Linked DNA regions of Homo sapiens: region 1 is linked to region 2. Evidence: fine-mapped expression QTL. Tissue or cell type: whole blood. Region 2 holds a variant in brackets; the other region holds the start of a gene. All regions are shown on one strand. Distances are from middle to middle.

Region 1 (8,193 bases), 82 kb before region 2:
GCTGCAAAGCACAGGCCTGAAGCAGGCGGTCCTGTGAAGGGTAATGTCAATGAAGTGATTATTTTTTTCTGTCAGTATTGTTCTTAGTTATCTTCTGTTCCTGGGCTCCAAGCCTGAATTAGAAAACTCTGAACTCGAGCATAGGCCTTGGGATCTCTCCTGAGGTCCTGAGTTCCAGCTATCCACTGGGGTCCTCCTGACTGTATCTGGGGACCCATGGCTTGGAGGAGGGTATGTTTGGCAGTAAGTTCTTATACTTGTAAGGAGTAGATGAGCCCTACCTCAGCAGAGAGCAGACATTGGCACGGCCCTCAAGGTCCATCTCAGAGGGCGTCTGGGTATCCGGATCAAGGCCAAGGACTGCAAAGACAAAAATTCCAAACCCAGCATTACCTCCCTGTGCTGGCCAATTCTGCTCCTCCAGCTGAGCCTTCCCAGTGTGATGATTTGAATGTTTGTCCCCTCCCACACTCATGTATTAATATTCAAAGAAATTTGGTTGCTGCTGTGGCAGTGTTAGGAGGTGGGACCTTCGGGAGGTGAAAGGACCATGAGGACTCTGTCCTTCTGGGTGAGATTAATGCTATTAGAAGAGGGTGAGTTTGCCTTCCTTTTTCCTATTTGCTCTCTGCCTTCTGCCACATGAGGACACAATGTTCCTCTCCTCTGGAGGATGCAGCAAGAAGACTCACACCAGATGCTGGCACCTGATCTTGGACTTCCCATTCTCCAGAACTGTGAGAAAAAAATGTTTTGTTCTTTACAAATTATCCAGGCTCAGGAATTCTGTTATAGCAGCACAAAACAGACTAAGACACCCAGGGATTAGCATTGAGCCTCGGACCATGCAGGAAATAAGGAGGCGGTGTCTGGGGGCTGTGGTGCAGCAGGCAGGGGACAACCAAGCGACTTCCCAGCCCTGTTGGAAAGTGGATCTGGAGGGATGGACTAAAAGAGGCAGAACTGAGGCCTGGGCTGGAGGACCTGAGAGTGAAACTGGGCCTGCACTGGGGAGTGAGGAGGACCTGAAGCTGCAATGGGAAGCCCTGTGTGGCTGAATCCTAGAACCATGAGGAGAGGCAACATTAGCAACTAGATCTCTGGCCTCTGCTTTTGGAATCACTTTTGGATTCACTTTTGGATGAGTGGTGCATGAACTCATCCAGACTGATGTGTGAAGGGCATCCAGGCTTACCCCTGAAGTATGGAGACTGCAGTGGGTCTGTTGCTCACAGAGGAACTCCCAGAAACTCTGGGAGAGTCACAGACCTAGAGAAGCGTATGGCTCAAACCTCTTGAGCAAGAAAAGCAGTGTTCACTGCCAGGCGTGGTGATGAATGCTTCTGTTTTTTGTCTCATTAAACACTTGCAACTGTGTCTCCTTTTTTAAAAAAAGGAAAACTGAGACACAAGTTGGGAAGTAACCTGCCAAAGGTCACCAACTATTCAGTAGCAAAGCAGGGACTTAAGGCCAGGCTTGCAAAGCTCCTAGTGCTACTGGTAATTGGTAAGACTCAAGGGTTTAAAGAGGCCTCCAAAGAAGGGTAGTAAACTGTGATGGGCCCTAAACTTTATAGTTCTTCGAATTTTTCACAGGTAAAAGGACAGAAAGCCAAGAAGAGCCTTCTGGGTCACTGGCTTCTGGGAATATTGTGTGGTCAAGCAGGAAGTCTGGGGGAGATGGAATGACACCTCAGGGTCCACTCTTACCAACTGTTCATTTAGCCTCCATGCAAGGATTTCCTGGTGATGTGAATGGGGGTTATTCCCTCTGTGTGTCTTGGAGCAGCCATGCTGCTCATGTTTGTGAAATGATGACCAGTGCAGAATCTTGATGTTAGGCACTATGAAGAAACATTAGACATGGGGTCCATCTTTAAAGGGGAATCTTACCCTGGTGATATAGTTTGGATATTTGTCCCATCTAAATCTAATGTTGGGCTGGGTGCGTTGGCTCATGCCTGTAATCCCAGCACTTTGGGAGGCTGAGGCGGGCGGATCACCTGAGGTCAGGTGTTCAAGACCAGCCTGGCCAACACAGTGAAACCTCGTCTCTACTAAAAATACAAAAATTAGCCAGGCATGGTGGCATGCTCCTGTAGTCCCAGCTACTGGGGAGGCTGAGGCAGGAGAATCACTTGAACTGGGGAGGTGGAGATTACAGTGAGCTGAGATCACGCCACTGCACTCCAGCCTGGGCGACAGAGCGAGACTCCATCTCAAAATAAATAAATAAATAAATAAAATCTAGTGTTGAAATTTGATCCCCAATGTTGGAGGTGGGGCCTGGTGGGAAGTGTCTGGGTCATGTGGGTAGATCCTTTATGAATGACTTGGTGCTAGTCTCATGGAACTGAGTGAGTTCTTAGTCTTTGTTTTCATGAGAACTGGTCATGGAAAAGAGCCTGGCACCTCCCACCTCTCTCTCTTCCTCTGTCTTGCACACATTGGCTCTCCTTTGTCTTCTGCCATGAGTGGAAGCTTCCTGAGGCCCTCATCAAAAGCGGGTGGTGGTGCCATGTTTCTTTTACAGCCTGTGAAACTGTGAAACTAACAAACCTCTTTTCTTTATAAATTACCCAGCCTCAGGTATTGCTTTATAGCAACACAAACAAACTAAGACATATGGCAATGGCGTGGGTTGCTTGCAGGGTACCTTGGCTGCTACAGAAAGAAAAAGTCTCTGTAGAGACTCACTGTCAGTGACTCACGGAGCAGAAGGCTGGCCTCAGAGCCTGGACAGAGGGTAGCTGTCACTGCTTAACTGCAGTTCAGCTCAAGCATATGGCTCTCTGTGGGACCAGCACTGAAGGCTGGGGGATAAGTGAGGCAGGTCTTGTCACACCTTCAGGGTATCTGGATTCACCAAAGTGGCTCAGGTCAGGACCAATGAATAGAGGTTTGTTCGTCAAGATAAAAAGATTCTGGCTTCCTGTTTTCAGGCAATGCCAACGATTGAATTCCCTCTACATTGACCACCCTTGCTGAAGTTGTCTTAATTGACCTAGCAGCCAACTGACCTCATATTCTGGCACAGGCTCTGACTCCTTTTGCCTATCTGCCCTGCTCTGATACTACAAAGAGACCCCCCCACCCCAGCCCTCTGGGGCCTCATTAGGGGCTTAGAGGGCAGGCGTGGGTCAGGCGAGCATTCCTGGAGAACACAGTCCTCAGTGGTTCAGGATATGAGCATAGCTCAGAGAGCTGTTGACATTATCAGCCTGGCCTGGGAGAGGGGGACCCGCACAGGGTGGTGCACAGGGCCCGCAGGGAATTTACAGCGGCGTCCGCGGCGATGGGCTCTCAGTGCCTTGGAAGACCGGTAGAGGCAGGTTCTGTCTCTCCCGGCCTGGCAAGCAGAGGGCCGCGGCGCAGGGCAGAGTGCCGCGGCGCAGGGCAAAGCTCCAGTGCGCAGGCTCGCGGGCGCAGGTGGGATTGGATAGCGACGAAGGCCGGCAGGCTAGGCGTGGACCCAACTGGCGAGGCTGCTGGGGTTGCAGCGGGACAGTTGGGGCGGCCCCGCAGGCCCAGGTGAGGAAAGGTGGCTGGGGGCCAGGTGGGCAGGGGGCGTGCGGGAGGCCGCTGCGCCGGGCTGTGGGAGGGCGGGCGTGAAGAAGGAAGATGCCGTTGACGTGCAGGGGTCACAAGGCGTGGGTTGTGGCCCTGGCCCGGGAGACTGCCCGGGTGGGCCTGAGCTGTGAAGTAGTGTCGCTGCAGCCAGAGGGCAGGACGTGATTCTGGCCGTGTGATGCCAGCTGCACTGTGACGCGTGTTGGGGCGCCTATGCGAGACGGGACCGGGACAGGAACCCTGTGGCTCTGTGGTAGGGGAATGCCACCAACTCCCTGAGGAGCAGCCGTGTGGTATGATTGGTAAGAAGCCATCATCAGGCGCTGAGACAGCCCAGAACTTCCCAATGACTCAAGGGCGGGTGGAGGTCGAGGGACCTAGAAAGAAAGAACATGAATTCATCAATCCATTCAGCAGCTATTTTGAACGCCTCCTGTGTGCCAGATGCTGTTCTAGAAGCTCAGAATATCTATGAACGCGATAGGCAATGCCCCCATATGCCAAGGCCCTCATATGCTAGCCTTGACTCAAGGAAAACTGTAGGATGGGGTAGGTTTCATTTTTGGAAGTTGTGGAATCAGTACTTATGTTTTGAATGTGTTAGGTTTGAGATGCCCAGTAGGTTTTTCCCAATAGAAGACATAAGCATAGCTGGGAAGAATTTTGCAGAGGACTCTGACCACCTACCACCTACAGGTGCCATGAATATTTAGCACATTTGATTTTTCACATTACCTATTCACCTTCTCTCCATTTATCAGTCACCTGGTAGTTTTTTTTAGTATGGTGAAATATACACACATAAATTATCTAGTAGATATTTGGGTTGAGATATCAAATGTGCTTTTTAGAAATTTAAATCTGAAGTTCTGGAGGATGTCGGGCTAGAGTTAACCTTTGGAATCGGCATCATATACTGTACATAGTATTTAAAATATATGGGACTGGTGAAGACATCTAGTTTAATAGTGTACACAAAGAAGAGGAGGCGAAGCCAAAAAAGGGAGGGAGGTAGTGGTCAACCATGTTGAATGTTACCGTATAAGATGACTTTGGTAATTAGGAGGATTTTAATCATTTTGACAAGAACAACTTTAATGGGGAAGAGGGGCCTTAAGGTTGGGTAGAGTTTTTTTCAAGATAGAAGAAAGCAGAATGTTTATATGGCAATGTGATTAAACTCGTAGAAAGGAAAAACTGCTGCAGATGAAAGAGGGGAACATTGTAAAGGGTAGTTGTTGAATACCTGAGAAAGGAGAAGACCCTAAGCAGGTGAGTAGTTGGTTTTGAAATGAGCAGGGACACTTACTCTGTTGTAACTAGAGGGGAAGCTGAGATAACAGGTGCAGATACAGTGGGTGGTGGGAAAAGAGTCTATTGGTATAGGCATCCATCAGCTTAGAGGGAGGGCAGCGGGGGAGAGGAAAGGTGTGGGAACTTGGAGGAGAGATATGTGACAGAGTCCTAGAGAGGGTGAAAGTGAGCGTACTAGAGAAATAGAGTTGGATTCCCAGGCAGTGCTCAGGGCCCATTTGAGACGTGTAGTCTTACATTTAAAGTGATATAAACCAGTGTGGTTGTTTCATGTTCAACTTTGGAAGGGTGTTGTGAGGATTAAAGAAGGTAATGCATGAAAAACATTTAATAGAGTGTCAGGCGTTTAATGAATGTTAACGCTTTTTATTTGAGCCCTCGTTTTGTTTTTCTTTTCTGTTTATACATATGTGACTGAGGATGGCTGGCAATTACCACTTGACAGGCTGTTCTGGGGCATGTTCTCCCATCACAGAGAACTGCAGTTTGCAGCTACTCAGAAGTCTGGTTCCTGTTGTGTTTACATGTACACAGCTTGATAATTGAAGATGTTTGCTTTTTAGAGCCATTGTCCTGGACTGTTTGGGCTGGGGTTTGTCACAGTGACAGTCCTTAAGTTTTTGTGAAAATCTTTTATGACTGCATTTCATATTGGATCTGATGTACTGGTAATCTACAGAATCTACAAATCTAAGATTGGCAGGAAAATTTTCAGTTTAATAGATTTTCATTTCTCCCTGACCACTTGAGCTGTTTTAAAATACAAATAATAATAATGGCTGACAGAAAGCTCTTAAAAGTGCCAAGTACTTTTCTAAGCACATCACATGCCTAATCTTGTTTAATCATCACCTCAGCTCTACAAGGCAGGTACAATTATTATCCTGATTTTTCAGATGCAAAAATAGGCTCCAAGAGGTTAAGTAATTTGCCCAAGGTACCCATACCCTGACCTCCAGTTTCTACTGCAGACAATAACTTTTTCTTTTTTTTTAAACTGCTTGGCCATCACTCATCTGCATTGCAGTGGAGTACTTAAGATGTTGGACTCCAAAGCCAGATTGCCTGGTTTCAGAAAACTGCCACTTAGTAGCTATGGGACTTTGGGTAAATCATCTAACTTCTGTGTGCCTTTGTTTCTTTTTTGACAAAATGGAAATAATAATAGTACCTGCCTGATAGGGCTATTATCATCGCAGTTGAGAATCACATGAGTTAATATATTTAATATGCCTAATATAGTGCCTGGTTGTTTAAATGCTACTATTATCACCTGCCTGGTAGTACCACCATGGTGCTGTATATACTGATTGGTTTGATCTATCAAAATAAGATTCCAAGTGTCCTGTTATTGTCTAAGCAGAGTTTTAAAATTGCAGCCCACTATATTATTCCCACCTCAGGGATCACTCCTGTTTCCTCTGAGTTTATCTCTCTGAGGGAAACAAATAGATAACAGTTTGCTTCCAGGAGCAGACAACAACTCAGATTTCATTCAGACTCATTTGACCAATAGAGTTCATTTCATTAATCCTGGCATTACATACCACTTAGCAAAGGGGAATAAGGCTTGGGGAGTAATGTGATTCCATGTTGCTTTTCCCAGATCAGCAGCCCATTTAGAGGAATTTGGTTAGAAATACCAACGGACTACATAGCCAGTATTTGGCACAGCATAGGGTAGGTGATGTGGGTCAGTGGGCTGGACATAAAAGTGTTCTGAAAAGATCTGTAAAGTCATTGGAGTTACTGTGATGTGTTGTGTCAGTTACTGATTAAAAGTAACTGGCAGGCTTGGCATTTGAGACCACTGAAAGTTTTAAATGATCTTTCTGATATACAACACGTAGAGTAAATGTATGATACAAAGTAGTGGTTCTCAGTGAGTTTGCATCAGAATCACCAGTGGGGAGTTTTATGAAGATTTGCACAATGACAGGCTCCACTTCCACAGATTCTGAATCAGTAAGTCTCGGTAGGGTTCTGGAATCAATCAACTTTTTTAAGAGCTCCCCAAGTGACTGTGATGTGCAGTTAGCATGGCATATCGTTAGTACAAATCAGTGCTTTTAAGCCCTGACTGTGTTTTACAATTACCTTTCTATCAGCTTTTTTAAAAAATACTGATATTCTGGAGCCACCCCAGGGATTCTGATTTAATTTGGCCTGGTGAGTTCTGGACATACGTGTGTTTCTTTAAAAAAATTTCTGAGATGATTCTAATGTACAGCTAGGTTTGAGATTCACTGGCATAGTCAGCTAGATTTCCCGCCATAGTTTATTTACTCTTGAAAATTTAAACATAGCTTCAGGCAGCATCTTACCACCAGGAAAGTGGAAAAATGAGCATTTCTGAATTTCCTCAATGTAAATGTTCAATAAAATAATCAGCTAACAATGAAAAATGTGAATTGCTGGTAGAATTAGCATTTCTTACCCTAAGCTATGAAGATTTGATCAAGTTTCCCTTGGGGATGAGAATTTACATTTCCTGAGAGCCTTATATAGAATCTCAATATTTCAGCAACTCTGGGAGGTACATATATTTCCCATGTTGTAGATGAGAATTTTGAGGCTAAGGGAGGTTAAGTAGCTTGCACACTCAGTTGTGTACATTTCCAAGGTCTAGGTTCCATTTTTTCAGTGATTCTCAACTTTGAGTGCACACTGGGATCACCTGGGAACTTTAAAATTACCAGTGCTTGGCTGGGTGTGGTGGCTTACGCCTGTAATCCCAGCACTTTGGGAGGCTGAGGCGGGCGGATCACGAAGTCAAGAGATCAAGACCATCCTGGCCAGCATGGTGAAGCCCCATTTCTACTAAAAATACAAAAATTAGCTGGGCGTGGTGGCATGCACCTGTAGTTCCAGTTACTTGGGAGGCTGAGGCAGGAGAATCACTGGAATCTGGGAGGTGGGGGTTGTAGTGAGCCAAGATGGCACCACTGCACTCCAGCGTGGCAACAGAGCAAGACTCCGTCTAAAAAAAAAAAAAAAAATGACCAGTGCTGGTGTTCCATTCTCAGAGATTCAGATTTTGTTGGTCTGGTGTGGCCTGGAATTGGGATTTTGCAAAGCTCTCCAGCTAATTCTAATGTGCAGCTGAAATTGGGAATCATGCATTACAACATGCAGCTTCCTGGTGGTCTAAATTAATTTTCTCTTAACGCTCCTCTGTAGATGGCTGTGACTGGGTTCCTTGCCTTCATATATTCACTTATAGATGTCTTAGTGTCTTTTCTTTCCACCCCTTCCTCACTTTTAATAAATATGTAAAGATTGCCAGACACTGTTCTTGGTGCCAGAATG
Region 2 (8,193 bases):
GCGCGGTGGCTCATGCCTGTGATCCCAGCACTTTGGGAGGCCGAGGCGGGTGGATCACCTGAGGTCAGGAGTTCGAGACCAGCCTGATCAATATGGCGAAACCCCGTCTCTACTAAAAATACAAAAATTAGCCAGGTGTGATGGCATGCACCTGCAGTCCCAGCTACTTGGGAAGCTGAGACAGGAGAATTGCTTGAACCCAAGAGGCAGAGGTTGCAGTGAGCTGAGATTGTGTCACTGCACTCCAGCCTGGGAGACAGAGCGAGACTCCATCTCAAAAAAAAAAAAATTGTTTGTTGATCTTTCGTATGCATTTTTCCATCTTAATTTCATTCAGTTCTGCTCTGATTTTGGTTATTTGTTTTCTTCTGCTAGTTTGGGATTGATTCGTTCTTTTTTTCTAGTTTCTCTAGGTGAGACATCAGGTTGTTCATTTAAGATCTTCCTAACTTCTTTGATGTAGGCATTTAGCACTATAAACTATACTCTTAGCACTGCTTTAGCTGCATCCCAAAGATTTTGATTTGTTTTGTCTCTGTTTTCATTAATTTCAAAGAATTTTTTTGATTTCTGAATTCATTTGTTTACCCAAAAGTCATTTAGGAGCAAGTTGTTTAATTTCCAAGTAATTGTGTAGTTTTGGGAGATCTTCTTGGTAGTAATTTCTGTTTTTATTGTACTGTGGTCTGAGAGTATGCTTGAGATGATTTCAGTGTTTTTAATCTTTTTCAGATTTGCTTTATGGCTGAGCATATAGTCGATCTTAGAGTATATTCCATGTGCAGATAAGAAGACTGTATATCCTATGGTTTTGGAGTGGACTAGTCTGTAGATATTTATTGAGTCCAATTGGTCAAGTGTTGAATTTAAGACCAGAATTTCTTTATTAATTAATTTTTCGCTTTGATGATCTCTCTAATCCTGCCAGTTGGGTGTTGAAGGCTCCCAATATTATTGTGTGACTAAGTCTTTTCATAGGTCCAGAAGAACTTGTTTTATGAATCCGGGTGCTCCAATGTTAGCTGTGTGTATATTTAAGATAGTTAACTCTTCTTTTTGAATTTTTCCCTTTGTCACTGTGTAATGCCCTACTTTGTCCTTTTAGATCATTGTTGGTTTAAAGTCTGTTTTATCTGATATAAGAATAGTGACCCCTGCTTTCCTTTTGTTTTCCATTTGCATGATAGATCTTTCTCCATCCCTTTACTTTGAGCCTGTGGGTGTTCTTACATGTGAGATGGGTCTCTTGAAGACAGAATATGGTTGGGCCTTATTTTTTTAATCCATTTTGCCATCCTAAGCCTTTTAAGTTGGGTATTTAGACCATTTGCCTTCAAGGTTTATATCAATATGTGAGATTTTGATGCTGTCATCACATTGTTGGCTGGTTGCTTTGTAGATTTGATTGTGTATCTCCTTTATGGTGTCTGTGGGCCATGTACTTGTGTTTTTGTGGTGCCAGGTACTGTTCTTTCATTTCCACATTTAGCACTTCCTTAAGGACTTCTTGTAAGACTGGTCTAGTGCTCATGAATTTCCTTAGCTTTGATTGTCTGAAAAGGATTTTATTTCTCCTTTGCTTATGAAGCTTTCTTTGGAAGAATATCAAATTATTGTTTGGAGTTTATTTTATTTAATAATGCTGAAAATAGGTCCACAGTTTCTTCTCACTTGTAAGTTTCTGCTGAGAGGTCTACTCCTAGCCTGATGGGATTTCCTTTGTAAGTAAGCTGACCTTTCTCTCTAGCTGCCTTTAAGATTTTTTCTTTTGCATTGACCTTGGTGAATCTGTTAACTATATGTCTTGAGGATGGTCATCTTGTATGGTATCTCACAGGACTTTGCTGAATTTCTTAAATTTGCCTATTGACTTCTCTAGTGAGATTGGGAAAAGTTTTGCGCACTATATTTTCAAATATGTTTTCCAAGTTGTTTACTCTTCTTCTCTTTCAGAAATGCCAGTGAGTCATAGGTTTGGTCTCTTTACATAATCTCTTATTTCTTGGAGGTTTTGTTCATTTTCAATTTTTTTTTTTTTTTTTTTGAGACAGAGTCTTGGTCTGTCGCCCAGGCTGGAGTGCAGTGGCGTGATCTCAGCTCACTACATCCTCCACCTCTCAGGTTCAAGCAATTTTCATGCCTCAGCCTCCTGAGTAACTGGGACTACAAGCGCGTGCCACCAAGCCTCACTAGTTTTTGTATTTTTAGTAGAGATGGGGTTTCACCATGTTGGCCAGGCAGGTCTCAAACTCCTGGCCCCAAGAGATCCTCCCACCTCAGCCTCCCAAAGTGCTGGGATCATAGGCATGAGCCACCACCCCTGGCCCGAAATTCTTTTTTCTTTATTTTTGTCTGACTGAATTGATTTGAAGGACCAATCTTTGAGCTCTGAGATTCTTTCCTCATCTTGGTCTATTCCGTTGTTAATGCTTCCAACTGTATTATGAAATTTCTGTAGTGAATTTTTCAATTCCAGAAGGTCAGTTTGTTTGTTTCTTAAAATGGCTTTGTCAACTTTTTAACTCTTGGATCATTTTACCAAATTCCTTGGATTAGGTTTCAGCTGTCTCCTGAATCTCATTAAGCTTCCTTACCACCCAGATTCTGAGTTCTATGTTTGTCATTTCAGCCATCTCAATTTAGTTAAGAACAATTTCTGGCGAGCTAGTACAATTGTTTGGAGATAAGGAGGCACTGACTTTTTGAATTGCCAAAGTTCTTGCATTAAATCTTTCTCTTCTGAGAGGGCACGTGTTCTTTTATCTTGTTGAATTTGCTATCATTTCGATGAGGCTTTTTGTTTTTATATTCTTTGTATCCCTTGTGGGTTTGACTGTAGCATAAGCTGAGTATAGTCAGTTGGCTTTATTTCTGGGTGCTTTCAGAGGGCCAACACTCTGTATGGGATATTTATTAATACTTGTGGCTAGATTCTGGCACTGGATTTCACAGGCAGTGTATACTGGAAGAGTTTGGGGTGTTGTAATTTAGGCTTCAATCCAGTAGATGGTGCTTGAGAATAATGGCCGGCAAATAGACTCTCAGTCACATGGCTCTTTTGTATTCCAGCACATTTGCAGCAGTGGGGGTGGTGGGAAGGGGTAGCGATGATCCCCTGCCAGGTCCATTTCCAGGCCTTAGGGGAGCCCCCTCCAGTCACTGGCACCATGCCCACATCTCTTTAACCCCAAGGGGAACCCTGGCAGCCTGTGCTCTCTCCTCCCTTGGGGCAGCTCGAGCCAAAGATTAGGTCACCAGGAGATCCACAGCACACTGGAGGCCTGCTGATCCTCTGTGCTTGGGAGTCAGAGCTAATTGTGCAGTAGACCTACAGATGGTTTGTTGATGCAGTAGGTCAGGGGTGTGAGATCTCCAGGCAGGGCGGTGTTGCCGTGGGTGTATAGCTGATGTGGCACCCATAGCCTAGGGTTTTCTGCCCAGCAGACAGCTGTGGGGACTTCCCAGTTCTTTTTGCCTTGAGTGGATCTCAATAAGCTATTTTAAAGAAGTGACAACTTATCTTAGATCACAAAGTAAAGAATAGAAACAAAGAAAAAATTTTAAAAAAATTCTCTATGCTTTAACTCCATCCCCACCACATTTCAACTGCTTATTATCTAAATTTGTGTATTTTTATATTACCTTTCTCTTAATAGGTTGCTGTAGCTATTACGGCTTTTTATGAGTTTATCTTTCAGCTTCATACCAGAGTTAGGCATGGATTGCACACCATCATTACAATAATAGAGTATTCTGGTTTTGTCCATGTTGTTAATGTTACCAGTGGATTTTATGCCTTGAAAAGTTTTCTTTTTGAATGTGTATGTGGTTTTTTGTATTTTTTTATTTTCCTTCTGAAGAACTCGCTTTAGCATTTCTTGTAAGTCAGGTCTGCTGCTGTTGAATCCTCAGATTTTGTTTATCTGAAAAATACTTTATCACTCCTTCATATTTAAAAGTACCTTTGCTGAATATAGTGTTCTTGGATAACAGGTTTTTTTTTTCTTTCAACACTTTGAAAATTTATCCCACTTCCTCCTGGCCTATATGATTTCTGTTGAGAGTCAATTGTCAGATGAATTGGAGCTCTTTTATATGTTAATTACTTCTTTTCTCCTGCTACTTTTTAGGATCCTCTCTTTATCCTTGAGCTTTGAGAGTTTTATTATTTTATGCTTTGGTGTAGCCTTATTTGGGTTGAATATGTTTGGTGTTCTCTGATGCTCTTTTTTTTTTTTTTTTTTTTTTTTGAGACGGAGTCTCGCTCTGTGGCCCAGGCGGGAGTGCAGTGGCGCAATCTCGGCTCACTGCAAGCTCCGCCGCCTCCCAGGTTCACGCCATTCTCCTGCCTCAGCCTCCCAAGTAGCTGGGACTACAGGCGCCCGCCATCACGCCCGGCTAATTTTTTTGTATTTTTTTAGTAGAGACGGGGTTTCACCGTGTTAGCCAGGATGGTCTCGATCTCCTGACCTCGTGATC[C/T]GCCCGCCTCGGCCTCCCAAAGTGCTGGGATTACAAGCGTGAGCCACCGCGCCCGGCCCTGATGCTCTTATACCTGAATATTTATATCTGTTGCATTTTGGAAAGTTTTGTTATTATTTCTTTGAATAAGCTTCCTACCCCTTGCTCTTGTTCAACTCCCTCTTGAACACCAGTAATTTTTGGATTTGGTCTTTTGAGGTAATTGTCTATATTTGGTGATGATCTTCATTCTTTTTTATTCTTTTTCCACCTATGACTGCATTTTCAAGTAGCCGGTTTTCAAGCTCCCTGATTCTTTCCTCTGCTTGATTCATTCTGCTATTGTGAGGCTGTAATGAATTTTTCAGTTCAGCTAATATATTTCTCAGCTCCAAGATTTCTATTTGATTTTTAAATTATTTCAATCTCTTTGTTAAGTTTGTCTAATAAATTTTTGAATTGGTGTTCTGTTACCTTGGAGATCTCTGAGTTTCCTCAAAGCTATTAATACTAGTTTGAATTTTTGATCAGGGAGCTCTTATATGGCTATCTCATGAGGGTCAGTCACTGGTTCCTTGCTTTATCCATTTGGGGAGGTCATGGTTTTGTGTTGACTGCAGTTTCTTCTGGATGTGCAAGAAATATATATCTTGTATTGATGTCTTTGAATGAAGGATTAGTTATTTATTCCAGTGTTCTCTGTCTGGCTTATTTTTGTTTTTTATTGAATGTATTTGGTTATAGATTCTATGTAATTTACCTGTCGAATTTTTTTTTTCTTTTTTTTTTTTTTTTTTTTGGTGAGGGGCTAAGTTGCTGCCTTCTTTTTGGCACTAGATGTCACCTTACGACCAAGTTTGCCTTGGCTCCAGTAAACAATAAGAGAGCTGCTCATTCCAATTAGGGAAAGTCTCAAAGGAGATATCATGGCAGTGTGGGAAAGGTGGCTAGAGATTCATGCCCAGGGGTCCTGTGCAATGTATCTTCTGCAATGTGGTGCTACTAAACAACCACTCTGGTTTGGCATCTCCTTTAGCTGAGTTACAGACCAGAGTTTCCAGGGCTGGGGATGGTAGTCCCACCTCACCTGTTTGTTTCTGACTCTTCTCAGGGTATTTCTTTCTTCAGGCACATGTAGTGCTTCCTGTGGGTTGAGGTAGGGACAGGTTTCCTGCCAGGTAACCCAGATGGTGGGAAACCTGGATGTCACCTTTTCTGGTATAGAAATCATGAATCAGGTGGAGATTTTTTGCACTCTTGGTGCTGGGCAAATTGGAGAAATGGGCATTGCAGATGTGGAAACCCAATTCTCTTACTGCCTACTTAGAGTTTTTTTCCCATCTCTGTGGATCCAGGAACTGTCTTCTCCTCGTATTTGATTTCTGGGATATTGTTGGTGATAATTTCAGTGCTGTATATTTGGTTTTGGTTTTCTTTGTAAAGAAGTGAAGCCAGCTTGCTTCTACACTGTTATTTTGGAACCAGAAGTCCTCTCTTGTCTTTTTAATCTAATTCTCTTTAAGATAATTATTTTATCTTTGAATTAATTATTTTTTATGTAAATTACAAATAAGTCTTAATGGTTCCTTTGCTTTGTTAACCAGTACATCTTTGGAAATAACACAAGTGTAGTTTTAGAGCTTCACAATCAATAATGACTATAAAACTCAATATATGAGGAATCATAACTCCAAGTGAAAATTATATAACTCTTTGTCTTCATTTCATTGCAGTCACTTCCATCTTCATTATTTGGTTAACCACTACAGCCACATTTGGAAAGCTGTGTCTTTTCTTAACTGAACAGTCCAGTCATGCTTGTTTTATAGTCAGTAAACTGATTAAAAATTAGTAATTCAAATGTATTTCCATAATTTGCCTAATCTTAAATTATAATTAAAAAAATGCTTTTAAAGAAGTTACAGTTTTTAATTCTGATGAGATTGTATTTTATTAGTTTTTCCTTTTATGGATCATGTTTTGATATCAAGTCTAACAGCTCATCACTTAGCTGAGGGCCTGAATAATTTTTTTGTGTTCTTTTATGAAAATTCTGTAAGTTCATATTTGACATTTAAGTCCATAGTCCATTTTGAGTTAATAAATTATTAAATTTAGGTGAAGATTCATTTTTTGGCCTATTGATGGCTAGTTGTTTCAATATCATTTATTGAAAATTCTGTTATTCCTCTATTGAATTATTGTTGTACCTTTGTCAAAAATTATTGGGCATATTTGTATGGGCCTATTTCTGGTTCCGTATTCTGTTCTATTGATTAGTGTGTCTATCCTTCTGCCGGTACCACCCTTTGGATTATTGTAGTGATATAGTAAGCTTTAACATCAGATAGAATGATTCCTCCCACGTTATTCTCCTTTTTCAAAATTGTTTGAGCTATCCTAGGGTCTGTGCTTTCTCTAATAAATTTTAGAATTAGTTTGGCTACATCTACACAAAACTTGCTGGGATTTGGATGGAAATTACTTTAAATCTGTAGTTTAATTGGAGAGAGCTGATATCTTTACTGTATTGAATCTTCCAATCCATGAACATGGTAAGTGTATTTATTTAGGTCTTTTTTGAATTCTTGCATCAGCATTTTGTCATTTTCAGTGTATAGATCTTGTATATGTTTTGTTAAATTTACCCTATTCATTTTCTTTGGAGCAATTGTAAATGGTATTGTGTTTGTACTTTCAGTTTCCACATATTCATTGCTAGTACGTAGAAATTTAATTGATTTTCATTTGTTGATCTTGTACCCTGTGATCTTGTTGAAATTACTTATTAGCTCTTAGAGGTTTTGTAGGTTTTTTTTTTTTTAGATTCTTTAGTGTGTTCTACATAGACAGTCATGCCATGTGCATATAGATTTGTCTCTTCCTTTTTGATCTGTATACAATCTGTATACATCCTACTTATTTTCTGGTCTTATTGCTGTACTAAAATGTCAAGTGCTATATTGAATAAGAGTGGTGAGAGCAGGCGTTGTTGCCATCACTGATCTCAGAGGGAAAGCAAACTAAAATTTTATGTTTTGTGAAAGACCCAATGAAGAGGATAAAAAAAAAAAAACAAGCTAGAGAGTAACTATATGCAGGGCACATATCCAACAAAGGCCTTGGATCTAGAATTTATAAGGAACCCTCAAAAATCAATAGTTAAAAAAAAAAGAAAAACAGAAATGGGTAAAAGACATGAACAGACAGTTCACCAAAGAGAACATACAGATGACAAGCACGTGAAAAGATGCTCAGCTTCATTAGCCCTTGGGGAAATGCTAATTAAAACCAGGATGGAGTAGCATTACACACCTATCAGAAAGGCTTATGTAAAAATAGTGACAGCACCCCATGCTGATGAAGATTTGGAAATGCTGGTGAGGATTTGGAGAATTATGTGAAGATTTGGAGAAACTGTATTGCTCATACATTACCCATATGTATGAGACATTGGGAATGTAGACTGGTACCAGCCACTACGGAAAACAATTGAGCAGTTTCTTGGAAAGAAAACAAAAACAAAACTAACTAAAGTTGACATATAACCCAGCAATAGCACTCTTGGGGCATTTATCCCAGATTAATCAAAATTTATGTTCATACAGAAACCTGTATGTAAATGTTCATAGCAGATTATATTCACAGTAGCCAAAAACCAGAACAACCCAGATGTCCTTCAACAAATTGATGGTTAAATAAAGTGGCACATATCCACATCATGGAATATTATTT

Evidence for each region. PIP is the estimated chance that this variant, and not a neighbour inherited with it, causes the effect.
Region 1: PTPN20 starts here. The variant in region 2 is fine-mapped to the expression of PTPN20 in whole blood (TOPMed, PIP above 0.99). The same link has a PIP of 0.9 or more in lung.

Annotation. Positions count from the first base shown.
Region 1 is chr10:46,907,971-46,916,163 of GRCh38, forward strand. PTPN20 (protein tyrosine phosphatase non-receptor type 20) reads left to right here and starts at 3,458. Exons shown (of 11, transcript NM_001042357.5): 1 at 3,458-3,531.
Region 2 is chr10:46,990,097-46,998,289 of GRCh38, forward strand. The region is part of intron 9 of PTPN20 (protein tyrosine phosphatase non-receptor type 20); the gene reads left to right. Among named protein-coding and RNA genes, the nearest start is that of PTPN20, 83 kb to the left of the region's middle. The variant C/T (reference allele first, on the strand shown) is at 4,480.